Linked DNA regions of Homo sapiens: all the other regions are reported to be linked to region 1. The links are microRNA targets in miRTarBase. Many come from high-throughput screens and were not tested one by one. Region 1 holds a microRNA gene; each other region holds the end of a gene's coding sequence.
Evidence for each region. Region 1 holds the annotated microRNA hsa-miR-8084 (GAAUACUAAGUAAAAAAUCAGUA, at 1,409-1,431, opposite strand). A microRNA usually pairs through its seed, bases 2 to 8, with sites in the 3' UTR of a target mRNA and lowers its output. Matches are read on the target gene's strand: a 7mer-m8 pairs with bases 2 to 8, a 7mer-A1 pairs with bases 2 to 7 and ends in A, and an 8mer does both.

Region 2: miRTarBase lists FAM241A as a target of hsa-miR-8084. The part of its 3' UTR that is shown has no 7-base or 8-base seed match.
Region 3: miRTarBase lists CDC14B as a target of hsa-miR-8084. Seed matches in the 3' UTR shown: 7mer-A1 at 4,031-4,037.
Region 4: the mRNA of NHS is a reported target of hsa-miR-8084. The part of its 3' UTR that is shown has no 7-base or 8-base seed match.
Region 5: miRTarBase lists CD9 as a target of hsa-miR-8084. Seed matches in the 3' UTR shown: 7mer-m8 at 3,611-3,617.

The regions. Positions count from the first base shown.
Region 1 is chr8:93,027,038-93,031,191 of GRCh38, reverse strand. It overlaps MIR8084 (microRNA 8084), which reads right to left and starts at 1,441; the gene lies at 1,353-1,441.
Region 2 is chr4:112,186,145-112,190,298 of GRCh38, forward strand. FAM241A (family with sequence similarity 241 member A) reads left to right here. Exons shown (of 2, transcript NM_152400.3): 2 at 549-4,154. The coding sequence ends at 794. Among named protein-coding and RNA genes, the nearest start is that of FAM241A, 43 kb to the left of the region's middle.
Region 3 is chr9:96,500,002-96,504,155 of GRCh38, reverse strand. CDC14B (cell division cycle 14B) reads left to right here. Exons shown (of 14, transcript NM_033331.4): 14 at 367-4,043. The coding sequence ends at 403. Among named protein-coding and RNA genes, the nearest start is that of HABP4, 52 kb to the right of the region's middle.
Region 4 is chrX:17,731,901-17,735,900 of GRCh38, forward strand. It overlaps NHS (NHS actin remodeling regulator), which reads left to right. Exons shown (of 9, transcript NM_001291867.2): 9 at 1-4,000. The coding sequence ends at 564. Among named protein-coding and RNA genes, the nearest start is that of SCML1, 3.6 kb to the right of the region's middle.
Region 5 is chr12:6,237,404-6,241,557 of GRCh38, reverse strand. It overlaps CD9 (CD9 molecule), which reads right to left. Exons shown (of 8, transcript NM_001769.4): 8 at 3,292-3,795. The coding sequence ends at 3,730. LOC105369625 (a long non-coding RNA gene) reads left to right here. Exons shown (of 5, transcript XR_001748979.2): 4 at 1,725-1,912. Among named protein-coding and RNA genes, the nearest start is that of CD9, 39 kb to the right of the region's middle. RefSeq lists an enhancer at 1-336.

The DNA of each region.
Region 1 (4,154 bases):
ATCATTTTTGTTCTTATTTCTGTATAATATTCCATCGTGATAAGCATGGTTCTAGCAATGAGGAAAAAGCAGGTAACAAAGGAAAGTCACTGATTTCATGGAGCTTGCATTCTAGTGAATACAATATATGAAAATATATATATATAGGGAAGCAACATAGATGTTTGAGTTGTTGGGCTATTGAAAAACTGCTGCTAGGACAATTTGTTATCCATTTGGAAAACATAAAATTTAGAATAGTACTTTATGCCACATACACAAAAAATTATGCCAAGAAATTTAAAATTTTAAATGTAAAAGGCACAGCTTTAAAACTTTTAGAAGAAATGTCCATTTACTAATTACATTTGTAATTTATTAAACATCTACTTGTACCAAGCAATTTTGTGTGTATAATGGATACATCAGTGAAAATAAAATACAAATATCTTTGCTTTTATGAAGTATACATATAATTCATTAAGACATAATAAAAACATAAACAAGCAAACTTAGAAACAAGTAACAAGTAACAAGTAAACAAGACAACTAGAGCCAATGGGGAGAGGGAAGTAATGAGTGCCTGCAGAGCTGGGGCTAGGGTTGCAATTTTAAGTAGAATGGTGTACTTGTTGGTTTTGCATTACTATGAAAGAAAACCTGAGACTGGATAACTTATCAAGAAAAGAAGCTTATTTGGCTCACAGTTCTGCAGGCTGTACGAGCATGGCACAAACACCTGCTTGGCTTCTGGTGAGGTCTCAGGATGCTTTTACTCACGGCAGAGGGTTAAGTGGGAGCAGGCGTGTCACCTGTTGAGAGCAGGAGTGAGAGAGAGGGGAGAAGGTGCCAACTTTTTTTAAACAACCAGCTCTCTGGTGAACTAATGGAGTGAGAACTCACTCATTACCATGAGGACAGTACCAAGCCATTCATGGGGGATCTGTCTGTGACCCAGAGACTTCCCACTAGACCCCACCTCCTACACTGGGAATCACAATTTCTTATGAAATTTGGAGTGGCACACATCCAAACCATATCAGATGGTCAGGGAATTATAGGAGAAAATTCTCTGTAACCTTAGGATATAGAAAGATCCTGAAATAAGACTTAAAAAACAATTTAAAAACTCCACAAACCATAAAGGGAATGCTTAGTTAATTTGGCTGCATCAGAGTAAATACTTTTATACATCAAAAGACACCAGAAAGAAAGTGAAAAGAAATTGAGAAGATATTTGCAATCTGTAATTCCTCCAAGTATTAGTATCCAGAATAGGCAAAGAATTTTAATGAATGTGGAAGAAAAATACAAACAACCAATAGAAAAAAATAGACGCAGGATATGAATATGCAACTCATAAAAGAGGAAACCCAAACTAAACCTAAGAAAAAATACTCAGTATCGAGGAAAATATAAATTTAATCCATACTGATTTTTTACTTAGTATTCTATTTATCTGTCTATCTTATCAAATTAGTTAAGATTCTAAAAGAAGGATTTCACTGAGATGGGCACAGCCATGAACGGTTGCTGGGATCAGAGAGGTAGCATTATTCTGAATTTGACTGAATGCTTTTGCACCTCCTGTCAGAATAATGGCATGTGCTTTTGGGTTACATTGGATATAAGAACCACGAATCTAGGAAGCAATTGAGTTCTGGCTCTACTTGTCCTTCTGAGCTATGCATAAGATTAAACACACCTCCCTTAATGTCTATAGTAAATGTAGATTTCTTCTTCTATGTATAGAAGTCCTTGAAGATGAAAAAAGGAAGAAAATGGTACTCTCAAGAACCAAGGGCATTTGAAATATACCAAGCCAAGTTGATGTCTAATTACTTAAGAAACATCAATTTATAGATTACCCAGGACCCTTGTTTCTTATTTTCTTTCTTGATGCTCAGTTAATGTTTATTTCAATTCAATACTTATTAAAGTCCATCGAAAGTGATAAAATCCAGTCTTATAAAAATATTGCTCATTAAAACTGCTATAAAAATGAACTGTCCTGTGCATGATGTCAAAATGAACTTTCTAAAATGCACATCTGGTCACTACACTCCCATATACATTCTGTATTCCAACTTTAATAAATTACCTGCCTTTCTGAAAACAGAAGATGCTTTTGCAACTAACACATTCTGTTCTCTCTATTCTAGAAATATTTATGGGGCACCTATGATATGCCAGGCACTGTTATAGTCCCTGGGGTTTCAGCTATAAATAAATAATAAACATCATGTTTTCATGAAACTTCTATTAAAGTGGGAGGACATATACAATAGCATTAAAAATAAATAATATATCAGTGTCCTGAGAACAATTTTTCAAAAAGGATATGGGGATAGAGTGATGGAGCAGGGCTATTTTAGGTAGAATGGTAAAGAAAGACTTGGATTGGAAGAAATTTGAGCAAAGATTTGAGGGAAGTGAGGGAGCCAGCCAAGCAGTTACCAAAAAATGAATGCTCTGTATTTGTCAACAATGTAATCAAAATAGAGGGTTAGTGCTTAAAGTCTAAAAATATGAAGGGCAAGATGCCAGTATCTGAAAACAAATAAAATATTTTAAACATTCTCACTCTGCCAAAGAATATTTTTCTCAGAAGTAAAAAGAAAATGGTATAGCCTTTTGAGATTCACAGACTATCCTCCTAGTGGAATGATCAATTCTGTAAGCGTTGGACCACAGAAATATTTAACTTTTGAAATTCAATATAGATATATCTTATTCTCATAAAATATTTTCTATAGAAAAATAAAAGGGTCTGATATTTAACTTAACGCATGAGCGTGATTCACCTATTTTCTTCTTACCTAAGACAATTCTTTGTATTCTCTTTGTGTGCAGAAGTTGAGTCTTGCTTTTTGTACTGTATTTTCTCTGCTATTCCTTCCTCCAGTTAAGATACTGAGATCTAGAATGAAATTACCAACAAGCACCTGAACACTCCTGCAAAACTCTTTAAACAGGTGAAATATGTGTATCTGGACTTTACTGGGGATATTTAAAATATAAGTAGTAATCTGAGGACTGGTTATCATCATCTTCCATGGGGCTCAACCAGTCTTTTCAATAACTTGCTTTCTCAAGGGTTCATTTCGTGGCTAGAAGTGTAACCATCACTCCAAGCACTGACAGCTGTCGCAATGTCCCCTGTCCAGCTCCCTAAACACATAGTTCATTCTTGAACCACTCTGTCTTTCTTGAATTTGTAAACTATACTGGATGTACTAACACCAAATAACACTCATCCCACCACATCCTTCCTAGTAGGACATATGGGTAAATGAAAGAGAAGGATACAAAAGTAAGTATTTCTGGTCATATGAAAAATATAATTAAAGACAGGGATAAAAGGTATTTTTAAAGACATCTTGATTACAAATTAAACATTTAAAATAGCCATGGAGTACTGGGGAAATAAAATGGCAAATTGGCCATTTGGAGATCTATTCATTTTTTATTCATTCATTAATTTTTCAGTAAGCATTTCTTGAACATTTACTCTACATCTGACATCATGACAAGATCTGGAATTAAACAGTTGTTTCAAAATATAATCACTGTTCTTGAAGAAGTAGTAGGTCATAAACACAAAAATTATTACAATATGATCTTGTGAGTGCTCTGTGAAAGCTTTATGCAATCAATTTAGAAATGTAGGGAGAGAGACCCAAAACCCATTCTGAGTTGGGGAAGACAGGGGGTCAAGCAGAGCTTCCTGGAAACATGTTTTTTCTTTGAATTTGAATAATAATTCTAGTAAATTAGCATTTCAAAGCCCAGAATATTTCCTTTCCATAAACTACATAGATTAACCATTTCCCATTATTTGCACACGCTTATATGCCTTTCCTTTAACTATGTCTTCAGCTACATCAAAACAATTGGGGTCACCACTTTTTCAGACCATTCCCAGAAACGCTCACCCCCTCCCCCTCTCTCTTGGCCAGTGGCTCTTCCAGGAATAAATGACGACACGATCTCAAATATTTCACAATATATGAAACTGTTGGGTCATTCCTGGAAATACTGCATTCAGGGATTGACACATGATCAGAAGCTTGAACCCGTAAAGATTTCATTTGTTCTGCTTGGACCCCTGAAAATTATCTTTCAAAGCAGAGATATCCGTCTCTGGAGGGAACTTGACCAGACTTCCACAGTAA
Region 2 (4,154 bases), not on the chromosome of region 1:
ATTGTAAAAAAAAAAAATTTGTATTAAAACTATTTGTTTCTCCTGATGAAATTAATAAGAGGCATTTAGGGCATCTATATAATGAACAGGAAACTATGCAAGGGCCTGCGCTGAAGTCTGCTTAGCTGAGCCTAAGACAAAGATCACAGCAGTAGTGGCTGAGGATTGCTCAATAATAACAGCAAACATGCTTTGGTCATCTGAGGCTCGGTTTCTTAACGTCTTAGTGTCAAAGGAACCGTCTAAAAAGAATCTTACCAGGACAGAGCAGTCAGGCCTTGCCTCATAAAACAGGAGGGTGGCAGAAAAGGGTGTTCTGAAATCATGGTCACTCACAAGAGAAATACAAACATGATTCTTCACTTAAGCAGTCATTTTTGTGCAATTCCAGGATCAAAAAGAACATTCCCATTGTGTTAACAGGTACTTGTAGAATAATTATCAGAAGTATGCCCAGCACTTTGGAAGATGAAGAACTAAGGTTCTTAAAGACGTTTACATATTTCTCATGTTATGTTCATGTTTTGTCTTTTTTTTTTTTTTTAAAGGATGTTGAAGACTCACAGAACCACACTGGTGAGCCGGTTGGAGATGACTACAAGAAAATGGGAACACTTTTTGGTGAACTGAACAAAAACCTTATCAACATGGGCTTCACAAGGATGTATTTTGGAGAACGAATAGTGGAACCAGTAATAGTCATTTTCTTTTGGGTTATGCTGTGGTTCCTTGGCCTGCAAGCCCTTGGACTAGTTGCTGTTCTTTGCCTTGTTATTATTTATGTGCAACAGTAAAACATGGCCGAATTGAATTGTTTGACATTTGGTAGCCATATATGTAATTGAAGAAGTTATATATTTCACTTTTTGACAACCGAAAAAGTTTGCCTTGTTTCAAATCATGTGCTGGCTGTTTTGTAAGTAAATTTATACATGGATGTCACTTAAAACTAAACTCTTGATCATAACAGGGTTGAATATATATTTTGAATATACATTAGCTTATTCAAAACTCTTGTTTCACTACTGTGATCTCTGTCTCCTTTATACACCTCTATCCCCATGCCAAATCTTAAGTAACACCACCAGAAAGTGAACAGGGAAAATAACAGGACATGGAATTCAAATCAAGCAATATAGTTCTTATAAAGAGTTCCAATAAAACATTTCAGAAGAAAAAGTATGAAACAAGCTAAAAGTAAGTTTCACTTAGAAAACTTCTCCCCACTCACACTCCCCACCAAATAATCTCATATTATTTGGGAAATATTTGGATTTCAATTGTCCCTACCCAGCCTAAACTAAGGTAAATGATAATTAGCATACACTACCTTAATATTGTGATGAAAATCAGTAAAGATAGAACGTTTTCTAAAGGTCAAAAATAATATATTTATTATTACTGGGGAAAGCTCCCAGGTTAAATATAACTTTTTTAAAATGTAACATTTGGACCTAGACCTACTTTAATATATCATTTGAAGTTTCAGACAATTTTGGTGCTAATTACTTTTTGTGAGTTTTTAAAGTCTCATAGCCTAGTTGACTGCACCCTATGGTAATGCCATATTTTCTTGTATCTAACAAGTTGCATATTTTTTCCTAGAGAGACATTTTCAGTGTATTTTTTTTTAGAAATTTATAATTTTATAGTTCTTTCATAACACTTATTCTGAGTTTTGAAACAATGTATTTCCTATCTTGACATGGATTTTTTCACAAAAAATTTGTATTTTACTGTTGTTTTCAGGAAAAAAATCAGATCATTTTTCTTTGATATCTATATCAGAAAGGTACAATATTAACAGTATAAAACCAAATGCTTAAATTTGGAACTTAGCCAATTTTGATAATCTTTTTCTAAGGCTAAAGTCACATCAGTAATTGGCTAGCCATGTTATTAAGGTGTCTTAATTCAGCATTTTCAGGTTTTATATTGAAATACGCATTTCTTTAAATATTCTTTGAAAATGGAGAATGGCTTTAGTGATATTTTGGGTTTTGTTAGAGAACCTAAAATCTTTACACTTTCATCTCAAAGATTATAAAGGAAAGGGGGGTAGTTAAGATTTAGAATTCAAGTTAAATTTCAGAAATTGGGGCAGTCAGGCATTTGTATCTTTGGTAGGGCAACAAGTAAAACATGTAGAGTGCTTGCTATCCCACTTCATAAAGCTTTTACCCAATCTTATTTCTAAACCTCTGTGCATTCTTAGTGTCTTCTCATTCTGAAACAGAAAATAAGGAAAAACATTTAACTTAGTTTTCTAAAATCAGATAATCCTAAACAAAAATGTTAGTCAGGGTCACTAAAAAGTATTGCACATTTATATAAATACAGTCCTTTTAAAATTTGACTTTTAAAAAACAAAAGACTTTGTACGATATTGTGTTTTTATTGCTTTTGCAATATTTTTATAGTAGCCTTTATGAACTCAGTATAAGTGCAAGTTGTTTGAAAAGGTGTTTTTATTAGTGCACAATAGAATTGTGAGGTTTTCAATAGATGTCATGAGATTTTGTATATCTACATAAAATATCAGTACATTTTTTTCTAATGCTACTGGAAATTTTACTTTTCCTTTGCAACACATAAATGATATGATGTACAAAATAACAGCTCTGGTTCCACCAGTACCTAATGTTGAAAACATTTTTAAAGTAATTTTTAATACTAACTATTTAGTATACTGTCAGTACTGTACATCTGCACACTGGTGTTAATAGGGTATATATTAAATTATATAAAGAAATAAGATATTTTGCTGTTATTCTTTCTACATATATTATTGGTCAGTACATCAAATAATATTTGGCTTTGATATGGGAAAAAACAAACTTTGCCTATGTAATGGAAATAAAATATTTTCTTTTATGAAATATATTAGAATGCAGATTATACTAATATCCTGAAATAAAACTGGTAATTTATTTGGTTCATGGTATAAAGAATTAGATTGGGCCGGGCGCGGTGGCTCACGCCTGTAATCCTAGCACTTTGGGAGGCTGAGGCGGGTGGATCACAAGGTCAGGAGATCGAGACCTTCCTGGCTAACATGGTGAAACCCCATCCCTACTAAAGGTACAAAAAATTAGCCGGGCCTGGTGGCAGGTGCCTGTCGTCCCAGCTACTCAGGAGGCTGAGGCAGGAGAATGGCGTGAACCCGGGAGGCAGAGCTTGCAGTGAGCACTCCAGCACTCTGGGTAACAGAGTGAGACCCCATCTCAAAAAAAAAAAAAAAAAAAAAAAAATTGGATTGAAAATGATTCTCATCATTTCAATCTCAAATACAAGCCAGTTTTAGAAACTGTTATTGCTTATGAATAAAGAAATAGAAGTTACAATGCTAAGGTTATTACATAATGCATACTCATATGGCCAGTAATTCAAAAGAAAAAGGTCGAAGTCTACAAATAAACAGACTGTAGATGAGTAAATCCATTTTTCTTAAAGTAAAAACTCTGTATTTTGTAGAATTCTGTCCTCTCATACCTTAAGCTGTCATGGGCAAGGTATTTTCCCATTCCTGGCTACAGGCAGATCATTCCTAGTCCAGTAGTGTGCTGGAGCAAGCTTGCACTGGCTTACAAGAGCCAACTGTGAACATTTTTTCTGCCTTCAGTGCTGTCAAGTTGGTAGTTTGAAATTGGCCATGGTGAGAGTATTTACACCAAAAAAATTAGTAAACACTGCAAATCAGATCTTTTTTTTTTTTTTTTCCTTGAAAGCCAGCTGTTAAACATACATCAGCACACCCTAGAGGCCACATTCCCATTTCTATTCCTACAGATACGAAAGTAAAGAACAGAACACATTTTGTGAAATAAAAGAAAGCATATGAGGTAAATCCCCATCGACCCACCCAAAACTGAATCTGGCTCTTTCCCTTGTGGGTATTATGGTTCATGGTTATCTTCTGACCAACAAATCTCTATTTAATCATGTTTTGACCACAGAAAATCTCTCTAGGCTGTCACCAAGCTGTAAATCCACTAAAGACTATCCAGGCAATCAGGAAAGGCAAAACTTACAGAATGATAGAGGAAAAATTACAGTATAAGTAAAGGTCTGTTGTAATATAGAAAGCTCAAAATAGTCAAAGCCAGGTTTGGAGCAATCAAAGGCTATTCGTGTGGTTCATAGATTGTTTTAAT
Region 3 (4,154 bases), not on the chromosome of region 1:
CTCAGAGGAAAGGAAGGACAAGGAGTGCTTTGCAGCACGTGCCCCTGGCGGCGTCATGGTACTTTCCTGGCCCTGCTGCCCCTGCCCGTCCGTCTTTTATGATTTTTATTTACTCGTATTGGTTTTTTTAAATTTCTATTTTTTGCAGAACTGAGCCTTTTTCTGCCCTGCCTTTCTCCTGTTTGTCTTTCCTTTGTGGTTGATATTGTGTTGTCTTCTCCAAAGTATTTGTCATTAGAAACTTACAGCAAGCGTATACTTTTTAGCATGTCAGTATTTTTATTATGTTGCCCTCCTTGTCTTTGATAACTGCCTGTGGACGCTGTGTAAACTTTCTGGTAAAAATCCTTTTTTTTCCCCCTGTAGTCTCTCCATTTCAAGGACTAAAACAGTCTTGCGTTAAGTAAAAACCTGTGACCAGAGCTGAAGGAAGACTCTAGGACTGAAAACTGCAACAGAAATTAGCACAATTTGAAAACAAAACAAAATTGCAAAAGCCTTAGTTGCTTTTTCCACCTAAGAAGTTGATCAATGGAGAAAATGTCCACTGGAGTTTGAATAATGAACTTTGAGTTTGGGTGCAAGCAAATGACTCAGAGAAGGGTCCAGCTCTCAAGCTGAATGACAAACATGCTGTTGTAAATTTAGTCTCAGGTGTAAATACCCAAGCCCTCTGGTACCCAGGGAGCTGGCTGGTCTGTGGTGCATGTGTGTCCCTGTGATGGCAATCATTGTAGTTGCTGGCCTTCAGAAGAATTGAGGATCTGATGGAGGTTTTTTATGTATTTATTTTCTGTTCACCTTGTGACCCTGTGTCAAAATTTATAAAGATACAAAAGGCATTACTGAAATGGTACTTTCTGTAATTTGATACTATTTGGCTTAATCATCTTCACTTGACTATTTGTAATACTGTTGTAATGTTAACTCTGTTAAGTACCCAAGCTGCTTGTCTTCCACCAAAGAGTGCTTTATTAACAAGAATCTGTGAAAATCACATTTAAACACTGTTGCATGTTGTAAGACCAGGTGGTACCTTAGTAACCTAAAACTTGCAAGAGAATATTAATGGTAGCTTTAGAAGACTCAGGAGGAGAAACTGACTTCAGAGTTGGAAGATGTTGCAAGTCGTTCCTTTTTCTGTCCTTCAGGGACTGAAGAACTGGGAGGCTGCCCATTGTTTGGTTGCCAGTCATACAAATTAAAATCATATTTCCTTCCATGAATGGAAGAAACACACTATTGGTTTTTCCCCTTGGAAACAGCAATCCCAAATAATGTCGGCTTACAAAAAAAAAAAGTTACCACTTTTTTAGAGTCCTTCCCTGTAACATTGGATTTTTTTTTTCCCTTATGAGATCCACCTAAGGCCATTGACGTGGCCTGCGATCTCAGTGACAATGATCTGCTTCTGGATCTCACTGTTGCCTTTGGTTAGGGAACACAACTAGTAACTCTGCAGAGTGCCTTCTCCCGCAGCCCTACTGGAACACAGCAGAGTCTGTGCCATGAAGCAGTTACAGAAACAGAATTGATGTGCTGCTAAAAAAAAAAAAAAAAATGGGGCCCGAAATAAAAGAATATATAGTACTCACCTCAGTTCCTTCCATAAGAAGTGGGTGGTTTAATGATTGTTAAGCCATTTTTGCCTGTGCCGGGAGCATGGAGGGCTGAGATGTCGACAGGCAGTGGGAAACAAATGCCCTCCTAAGCCACAAGGCGTGCGCCAGATTAGTAGGCAACTCCATTTTAAGAAGCTGCCTTTTTCACAAAACTGGAAGAAATAAAAGCGGTTGGAATAAACAAGTTAAAAGTCTTTAATGCAAAAAGTAATTGAAAGGCAGTGCCTCCATTTTGGTGTACTTTCTTGGAAGAAAGTATAAAATTGACCGGCATCATGAGAGACGGAAGATGCCGTGTTCTCAGCCAAACAAGCAACTCTTTCCCCGCCAGGCACTGTCGGGTGGGGTCAGGCCAGCTTTTAAACACTGGGGACTGGATCACAGAAAAACAGTGGTTTTCTGTCCCTGGAAATGAATAGGCACAAAGACCCACTTGGCTGTGGGCAGACTACTCTTCAATAAGATTTGGGTGGGAGGAGGAACATTCCTTTTGCTATTTTGAGCTGAGACAATATAAATATTCAAACTGTGCCATGCATAAAGCATTGAATTCTCAGGGCACCTCTTCTTCCCCTTACCCCTTTTAAGGCCATCCCCTCCATTAATAATAATCCAGGTAGTTGTGAAAATCGTGCTTCTATCTGATCCCTTCTTAGTTTGGCTTTTCATCCCATCAGAACAAGTAAACGTAGGCGCCACAGCTCTTGTGAGTACTGTCTCCCTCACGGTGAATGAGCCTCCTGGTGTTTCGTCCAAGAAAAGAAAGGGTGTCACTGGAACCACAGCCCTTTTTCATTTTATAAACTGCCTCTTCATGTTGCCTGCTCAAGTTTCCACCTAGAATTGCTATCACTGTGGCTCTTTCTAAAAATCTTTCTATTTAACTGGTTCACTGAAATTAGTCATAGAAAACTTGTGATTTGGTGAAGAGGCATTCCTTGTAATAACCAAATGACTTGGGATGGTGTGCATAGCAAGGGCAGTGTTACACTTATGAGGACTGTCTCTAGCATCCAGGAAGTCTCTGGGTCTGAGGGATGGAAAGTTCTTCCTGCTATGAATGAGAGTGGACTCTTCCCCTCACCCCCAACTGAAACCACAAACAACCAGAATCTTCTGGAATTCTGACTTAGAGTCGTTGTTATAGAAGACCTTGTTGCTATGGAACATGAAACTGTGTGTCAGATGGAGAGATCCCCTTAACCTAAGAGCCTTAAATAGCCCTGAAAGTACACTGGGACGGTTTGCGATGGAATTAAAATTGGAAGTGAATATTTTTAGGTGCTCTTGAAGCTTTCTGGGGACTCAAAATTATCAAAAGTCAGGGACAGTCCGGAGGAAGAGCGTCTGCAAAACTGGGTTCCTAGAAGTATAGACGGACTTAGCTTTTTGTAGAATTTGGTGAGGAGCAGCGCCTCGTGAGAGCAGAATGGCCTGGCGTGGCCAGTGCTTCCCGGCAGCACGCAGCTCTGCGGCCTCCAGAATTCCCCTGTTCTGAGCTTGATGCCCCTAGCCTGTCCCCTACCTACTTCCTCCCCTCCTCTCTAGCCCTCTCACAGGGGTGATTGCTACCTCTCTGTTTTCTTGGGCCTAGGCAAGTTTTAGAGGAGTTCCCAAGCATTGTTATGAGGCCAGTGTGCTCGCTGGGCTGGGCGGGATGGCCTGGGCTTGTGTGTGGCCTGAGGGCTCTCCTGGGGCCTTCTCTTTTCCCAGTCACCTTTGGAGCCACAGAAGCAGTGCACTCATTGGATGTCTGTTCTTAACACAGCTTCTCTTTCTACATTAAAAAAAATCATTATTGCATTTTGGAAAGCAGTGCTCATCAAAAGCAACTTTTAAAACCTATTTTATTGTTCCTTTAAATGTTCTCTCCCGCTGAAACTGCCCTGGAGAGGCTATCTGCTGCTCTTCCATTTACCCACATCAGGTTATTCTCCATGTCACTCAGTGGAGATGACTCCAGATGTGTTTAAAGACTGGACAATTCACCTATACTGTGTAGGAAATTACCTCCTTAATTACCTGGTAGAATTGTCAGCAGACATGTTCATCCGATGATAGTACTGCAGTTTTCTATTAATAATTTGCAGACTTTTATCTAACCTGCACTCATGTACAGATTATTAAAAGTTTTAAAATGTAACTGATCAGTATTGATCAATCATTGTCTTGATTTTTTTTTACAGCGTATATTTCTAATCATATTTTTTAAAGCCAAGAGAACTGGTTGAATGAATGTTTATTTTCCTGAAGGTATTTTTAAGATAAAGCTTCCTAATGGCGTGTAAACTTTGCATATGTATGTAGTTTGATACATATTGTCACATTTGAAAATCTTGTGGGTTGTAACTGGTTTTATACAAAATATCGAATAGTGGAAATTGTATAATTACAATCATGTAATTAAAAGTATTAACCCAACAGCCTTTTTGTTTATTGTGTTACTTACCAAGCATTTTGAATTCTGGTAGGCAGTGGGTTAGATCATAAAGCAGAGGTAACCCGGAATCTGTGTAAGTTTTCTAGGACGGC
Region 4 (4,000 bases), not on the chromosome of region 1:
TCTGTTCGAAGCAAATCGAGAGCTCCCCTCAGCAGTAGCAGCAGCAGCGCCAGTTCCATCACTTCACCCAGCAGTAATGTGACAACCCCCAACAGCCAGAGGTCTCCTGGTCTCATATACCGAAATGCCAAAAAGTCCAACACATCCAATGAAGAGTTTAAGCTGTTACTGCTCAAGAAAGGCAGTCGCTCAGATTCTAGTTACCGCATGTCTGCCACTGAGATCCTGAAGAGCCCCATACTGCCCAAACCTCCTGGGGAGCTCACAGCAGAGTCCCCTCAGAGCACCGATGATGCCCATCAGGGGTCACAAGGGGCTGAGGCATTGTCCCCACTCTCTCCATGCTCCCCACGAGTTAATGCAGAAGGCTTTTCCTCGAAGAGCTTTGCCACCTCAGCATCAGCAAGGGTTGGACGTTCTCGGGCCCCTCCTGCAGCCAGCAGCAGCCGCTACAGTGTCCGCTGCCGGCTGTACAATACGCCCATGCAGGCAATCTCCGAGGGAGAGACGGAAAATTCTGACGGGAGCCCACATGACGACCGTTCCTCCCAGAGTTCAACATAGACTGCCTGTACCAGGCTGCCTGGCAAAGGCCAAAACCCTTACTCACATGAGGATGGAGGAACAGAACAGAGGACTTGGGAAAAGTCTCAACTTGATGGGGTAGCATCACTGCTAAGCAATGAATGAATTTCTAAATACAGTATGTGCTGGGTAAACAGAAAGTGGTTTAGACATTCTTGATTAGTTTCCATATTTTAAGTAGCTGCAGTCTTTCATGTTTTTCTTTAGCATAGTTTGATTTACGCAATCTCCTTCCTTGTGAAAATAGAGGATACAAAATTGTCTAATTTTCATGACACCTAGAAAACGTTTTCCCAGAGCTGCCTATTCAGAAACTAAAGCCCTCACTGTCATTATTCTTTAAGAAGATGAAATTACTCTGGATGTTTGGTATTTTTTTACATTAAAACAAACTAAAGCAAAATTTAGAAGAAAGAACTACACATATGTAAATACCATATTTTTGATAAAAATGTGTAAATAGATTTATCAATGATGAGTGGACATGTGGTCAATTATCTACTGCACACCAACTGTTTATAGAATACACAAAAATAAAATGTAATAACTGTATTCTGTGAATACCATTTTCATATCAAATGCCATATTTAAATGTCCACCAATATGATTTCTGAGTGGTAAACCTCAAATATGAATTTTAAACTGGTGAACTAAAGGAAATCTTGAGGTCATATACTGAAATATGAATAAATTAAAATAATGAATTCAGATCTAATCATTTTTATGACAAATTGCAGCACCAAACAAACTAATAGCAACCCATGGCTGTGATTTGTTGTGTGGTAATTTGGACAGAATGAAAAGCATGCTTTTGATTTTTTTTTTAATCAGTGAGAGAAGTCATCATTCTCAACACAAAGCCCTGAACAACAGCATTTGACAGTGTCCTTTAGATTTTAATTTTTTCAATGGATTGCTTTAAAGAGAATGAGTAGGGAAAATAGTAGTTAATTTTAGGTTATGTTTTATATTAGGCTACTGGGGACATAAACGGTCATAACTAATGACTGTAATCATTAAACTCCTTAAACAGTTTAGAAATTAGCTCCAGGTTCTTAAACTAACAAAAATAAAACCTAAGCATGCCACAGAGCTATTGATTAATCAGTAAGTACCTGTAATGAGTTTTCAGTGAAGCTTTCTCTCTGTGCTGATGAGATTCATGCTACCTAAAAATTAACAGAAATGACACTGTGAACAATGTAGTTGGAAAATAGGTATGTGTATATGCATTATTTATACTCATTGTTAAACTGGGAATGGGGAACAGCTCTGGTTCACAATACTACATACAACTGAGTTTTTGTCTGGTTTTACTATAGTGTCTGCTTGATGGCAAAAGGGGAGGGTGGAGGGTGGGAGAGGAAATGTCAGGGCATGTGCTCTGATAAAATAAAGGCAGGGAAACAAGCTGAATTACTTGAAATTACTTGAATTTTCTTGTCTTAAAACTGAAAAAAAAATGTAGTTACACGTTAAAATCTGCAAATGGTTTTTACACCTCTGATTTTAACATGAACTTATACTAATGTTTGGAATCTTATGTCAGAAATATAAGCAGCTATGTACTTAGAATAGGTTTTGAATGGGAGAGGTAGAACAGAGAGAGAATTAAGAAGGGATCTGACTTATAAAAGACTAGAATGTGATTAGAGTGATAGAACATACCAATGTTACCAAGAAATTGACAAGCTGCTGGCTTTAAGCTTATGCAAGTGGTAGTTGGGAAAGTAGGAGGTGTGGAAGAGGGTTTGCATTTTGGATTAATTCATGCAAAATGAAGGAGGAAGCCTGGTCTAAGAAGATACTGTCTTTCAATAGAAATGATTTCTAAACTGCTACAGATTAAGAATAGATAATCTGATTGCTGTTGTTTTGTTTGTTTGGAAAGAAAAAAAATGTCTGGCTTCTTCTACTATTTGTTTTCACTACCAAACTGTGTTACTAAATTTCTTGTCATCCTTGTATGTAAAATGGGTGCTGGGGGTGGAGGGGTATAAGAGGAGGGAGAGTCAGAGAGAGTGTGTATGGGTGTGTGTGAGTGTGAGTGTGTGTGTACGCACACACACTGGGGATAGATAAGCTACCTGGTAAAGGGTTTGAACATTTACAAAATGTCACACTTTTTCTTAAAAGAAAAATATTTTGGGGTTTGAATAAAATGGACCACCATTTCTCATTGGAACCCATTAATTAAGAAAACCAGCATGGTTTGACACCACATGGGAACATGAATAAATCTGTCTCATGATTTGAAAAGTACACCTTGCAAAGTTTTAAAAATAAAGTTTTTAGGCAAATGCGATAAGAAACCGTCATTTCCAGTCACAGTAGGCGATCTTTCGTAATTTCATAAAAGCAGTTCGTTTGCAGTATGGCTTTTGTGTAGTTAGGGGTTTTTTAAGTGTGAAGAAAGGTATGTGGGCTTTAAAAGTGATTCTAAATCTTGAATAGAAAACACATGAATTGGCTTTAATAAAAATGTCACCTTTTTATTATTGACATTAAGTAATGGTACCATATATTTTTTAAAATACATATTGACTTGAATTGTGAGGCAATAAGATACCTTCTATATGTAATGATCACAGAACTAACCCTTATAATATAGTTTTACTTATTTTGTTTACTCTAAAAATCTATAGCAGAGTTTCTCTATTTTATATTTCATAGATTTAAAAAACCCAAATAAAGATGGATTTAAAATTCACTGTGGAAAAGAGTATTGAGTTACAAACTGAGAAGAAAAAGCAGGAAGTTCCCTAATAATCTGGAATATTCTACATGGCTTGATTACATAGCAAACAAGACCAAGATTTAGGGCTGTCTTTAACATCACTGCCGTCTTGAAGCAGGGTACACACGTTAGGTATTGTGAAGAACATCAATCCGAACTTTTCTTCTGTTGTTTGCACTGATGCGATTTTTTGTTCTTTTATGTTTATACAACGTATCTATGTTGTGTAGGGGAAATTTTTTCATTTTTTAAAAATTCTACTTTGGTTTTGTTGTTGTTTTGATTTGTTTTTGGCTAAGTAGAGGACATGGACTAGTTGTAGCAAACAGAACATGCTGTTTGCTCTTGCCAAAGGTCAGTGAGTGAGTGCATTTGCTGCAGTGGTGGCACGTAGAGAACTAGATGGTAATAAAGATTTAAAACTATGAAGAAGGTTACAGTGTAACTATTTTGGTACTAGAACCAGTTCATGCTGGCCGAAACGACAATGGTTTATGGACTTGCATCCATTTTGTATTTTTGTAATATTTGTAAATATGAACTTTTTAAATTGCTGCAAAGATGGTTTCTTTTGTAAGATGTTTTCAACGTTTACATTCAATCCAAGCCTTTGTATATTTTAGAGCTGTGCAACACTTTAAGTCTTGTATTTATTTTTAGTAAAAATGGTGACAGTTT
Region 5 (4,154 bases), not on the chromosome of region 1:
TCAAAATTTTCTCTCCTAAAACTTCAAGTGGGGCTAATGGAGGTTGCCTCTGTGTAAGCTTGGGAGCTGGGGGGCAGCCGGTCGGGAAGCGGCTGAGTAACAAAGTTGGTCTCCTCGAAGAGCAAAATATAGTAGCGCAGAAATGGAGAGCTGTAGGAGTTCTTGGTCCATGTTTCTGGAATCTTCCTAAGGCTCAACCATTTTCATTCTTGCGTTAATTGCTCACTTTTGCTTAAGCTAGCCCATTTGTCCTTACATTATTAACAACAAACAGAAAGGCAGGATATAGATAGCCCCGAGGTGTTCCAGGATTTAAGTAGCTGCAGTCTGTTCCACGCTAACCTACCCTTCAGCAAAGCTGCAGCATGGAATGTGCTCGTAGCCTCTGAGACCTGCTTTCTCTAGAAGGAGCTGGAGGTTACACGCAGGGGTCTCCTCCATTCCTATATAAAATGAATGGTTGGCCAGGCGTGGTGGCTCACGCCTGTAATCCCAGCACTTTGGGAGGCCAAGGCGGGTGGATCACCTGAGGTCAGGAGTTCAAGACCAGCCTGGCCAACATGGCAAAACCCTTCTCTACTAAAAATACAAAAATTAGCTGGGCATAGTGGTGGGTGCCTGTAGTCCGACCTACTCGGGAGGCTGAGGCACGAGAATGGCTTGACCCTGGGAGGCGGAGGTTGCAGTGAGCCGAGATCATGCCACTGCACTCCAGCCTGGGAGACAAAGCGAGACGACATCTCCCAAAAATAATAAAATAAAATAAAATTAATGGTTGACCTGTTACTTCCACAACGGGAACAGTCGTCAGCCGTCAGATTAATAAGGGACCTAGGGCCACAGAGCAGCAAGGACACTCAATAATGCCAAACCAGCTATTTTTTTGTGTGTGTTTAGTAAAATATAATACACAATTTACCACTTTGACCCTTTTTTTGTTCTTTTTTTTAGACAGCGTCTTGCTCTGTTGCTTCGGCTGGAGTGCAATGGTGAGATCCTGGTTCACTGTAGCCCTGACCTCCCAGGCTCAGGTGATCCTCCCAACTCAGCATCCCAAGTAACTGGGACCACAGGTGTGCACCACCATGCCCAGCCAGTTTTTTTTGTTGTAGAGTTGCAGTCTCACTATGTTGCCCAGGTTGGTCTTGGACTGGGCTCAAGCAATCCTCCCACCTCAACCTCCCAAAGTGCTGGGATTACAGGTGTGAGCCGCTGTGCTCAGCCCATTTTAACAATTTTTAAGCATATAATGTAGTGGCACTAAGTATATTCACAAAGTTTTGCAACAATCACCACCATCTATTTCCAGAACTTCTTCATTATCCCAAACAGAAACTCTGTACTCATTATACCATAACTCCCTATTTTCCCTTCTCCCTAGCCTCTGGTTACTTTTAATCTACTTTCTTTATAAATTTACCAATTCTAGGTACCTCCTATCAAGGGAATTGTAGAATATTTGTTCTTTTGTGTCTGGCTTATTTCAATGAACATAACGTACTCAAGATTCATCCATGTTGCAGCATTTAAGGTGGAATTCTAGCCCATCATATGGATAGGCCACGTATTGTTTATCCATTTATCTGTTGAAGGACACTTGAGTTTGCACCTTTTGGCTGTTGTGAATAATGCTGCTATCAACTTTGGTGTTCTGATGTTTGAATGTAATGGCATTCAGGGACATTTTGATCCTTCTTTCCTGGTTTTCTTTTTGTAATGTTAAGGAGGAACCCAAATGGAATCAAGGAGTGGAACATAAAAATCGGTTTCTTATGCCTCTGCACTTCACCTTTCTCCTGTTCATCCCACTCTGCCATCATTGCCTGCTTGCCTCCGAATTGCCCACGACAGTGCAGTCTGGGCACGGATCACACCTCCCATGCAGCGGTGGCTTTGTGATCTGTCCACCTGGGTAAGCTGAACCACACTTCCCAGAATTCCCTTCCCGTGTGTTTCCGGTTAGAGTGGAGCACAGAGGAGAAACTTGTGGAAGGTTTGGAGGTGGGAAGTGAAGCAGCAGTCATTTTACAGCTCACACGAATTGTGGCTTCTCTGCTGGCTCACCTCAGCAGAGGCAGGAACTGACATGGGGCCGGGTGCAGTGGCTCACGCCTGTAATCCCAACACTTTGGAGAGGCCAAGGCAGGTGGATTGCTTGAGACCGGGAGTTCAAGACCAGCCTGGGCAACATGGCAAAACCCTTCTCTACAAAAAATACAAACATTAGCCAGGTGTGGTGGCTCATGCCTGTAGTCCTAGCTACTTGGGAGGCTGAGTTGGGAGGATTTGCTTGAGACCAGGAAGGTCAAGGCTGCAGGGAGCTGAGATTGGGCCATGACACTCCAGCCTGGGCAACAGAGTGAGACCCTGTCTCAAAAAAACAAAAAAGAACTGACACAGACGGATGTGTCTGCCTTCAAGGGCTTCCACTTGGGCTTGTCCTCCCTTACTTTATATCCGTCTGTCCTTCCCGATTGTCTGCAGAGCCTGCTTAAGCAGCCCCAGTGCCAGTGACTGTGTAAGGTCAAATTCCCACAACAAATCTCTTCAAACAAGTACCTCTTAGTGGTTCTGCTTTTCTGATGAAACCCTGATGGGTACACACTCATTTATTCATTCAACCAAAAAATATTAACTGATAAAAAATACTGAACACTACCATGCACCAGATACTAGGTGCTAGGTAGTGAATAAAACAAAGTTCCTGCCACCATGGTGTGAGGTGTACTGTCATATCCCCAAGATATACCCCACTGCTGAATGAGCGTCTGAGGACCAGGTGCTGGTGCTGACTCCTCTGTTGACACCTGTGTGACTTTGGATCAGAATCCTTTAATCTCTCCACATCTAGATTTCTTCATTAGTAAACTGGGGTGAGCAACCTCCCAATCTACTTCTCATATAAATGCAGGTGGGGCCGGGCACGGTGGCTCACGCCTGTAATCCCAGCACTTTGGGAGGCTGAGGCGGGCGGATCAACTGAGGTTGGGAGTTCGAGACCAGCCTGACCAACACGGAGAAACCCCGTCTCTACTAAAAATACAAAATTAGCCGGGTGTGGTGGTGCATGCCTGTAATCCCAGCTACTCAGGAAGCTGAGGCAGGAGAATTGTTTGAACCCAGGAGGTGGAGGCTGTGGTGAGCCAAGATCGGGCCATTGCACTCCAGCCTGGGCAACAAGAGCGAAACTCCGTCTTAAAAAAAAAAAAAAATGCAGGTGGAGTTAATAGGAGTTGAAAGACATTTGCAAACCAAATAGCTCTCAAAATAATTAAACAAAACAAAAACCAGTCCAGGACATTGTCATAATTTTTTATTATGTATCAAATTGTCTTCAATATAAGTTACAACTTGATTAAAGTTGATAGACATTTGTATCTATTTAAAGACAAAAAAATTCTTTTATGTACAATATCTTGTCTAGAGTCTAGCAAATATAGTACCTTTCATTGCAGGATTTCTGCTTAATATAACAAGCAAAAACAAACAACTGAAAAAATATAAACCAAAGCAAACCAAACCCCCCGCTCAACTACAAATGTCAATATTGAATGAAGCATTAAAAGACAAACATAAAGTAACTTCAGCTTTTATCTAGCAATGCAGAATGAATACTAAAATTAGTGGCAAAAAAACAAACAACAAACAACAAACAAAACAAAACAAACAAACAAAAAATCCCACCAATCTTCATGGGTAAACTTTCCTGCTCAGGGATGTAAGCTGACTCTAGACCATCTCGCGGTTCCTGCGGATAGCACAGCACAAGATCATACTGAAGATCATGCCAAATATCTAGGAGATAGGAAGAAACATGAGGATCAGGGTGGTTTGATCTGAAGGAAGGCTGAGGGAAAGGGAGAGACATGGGTCACCCAGTCCAAGAAAAATGACAAGGAGAATGGCATCCAGGAGGCCAAACGAGTCAGAAGGTGCTGAAGCAGGAGAGATGCAGGCCAGATAATGAGAAGGGTGCGGGACGTGAGGAATCTGGGGGGGTTGGCAGTCAGCTGCACAAGCATTTTCCTTGGAGAACTTTCAGGGTGGGAAAGTAAGCTCAGAGCCAAATTTAATGCTCAAATTCCAGGTTTTCCTATAGTCCTAGTCCATACAGGTTAGTACTTTTGCATTTGTCTTTGTGTGTATGTTATTTA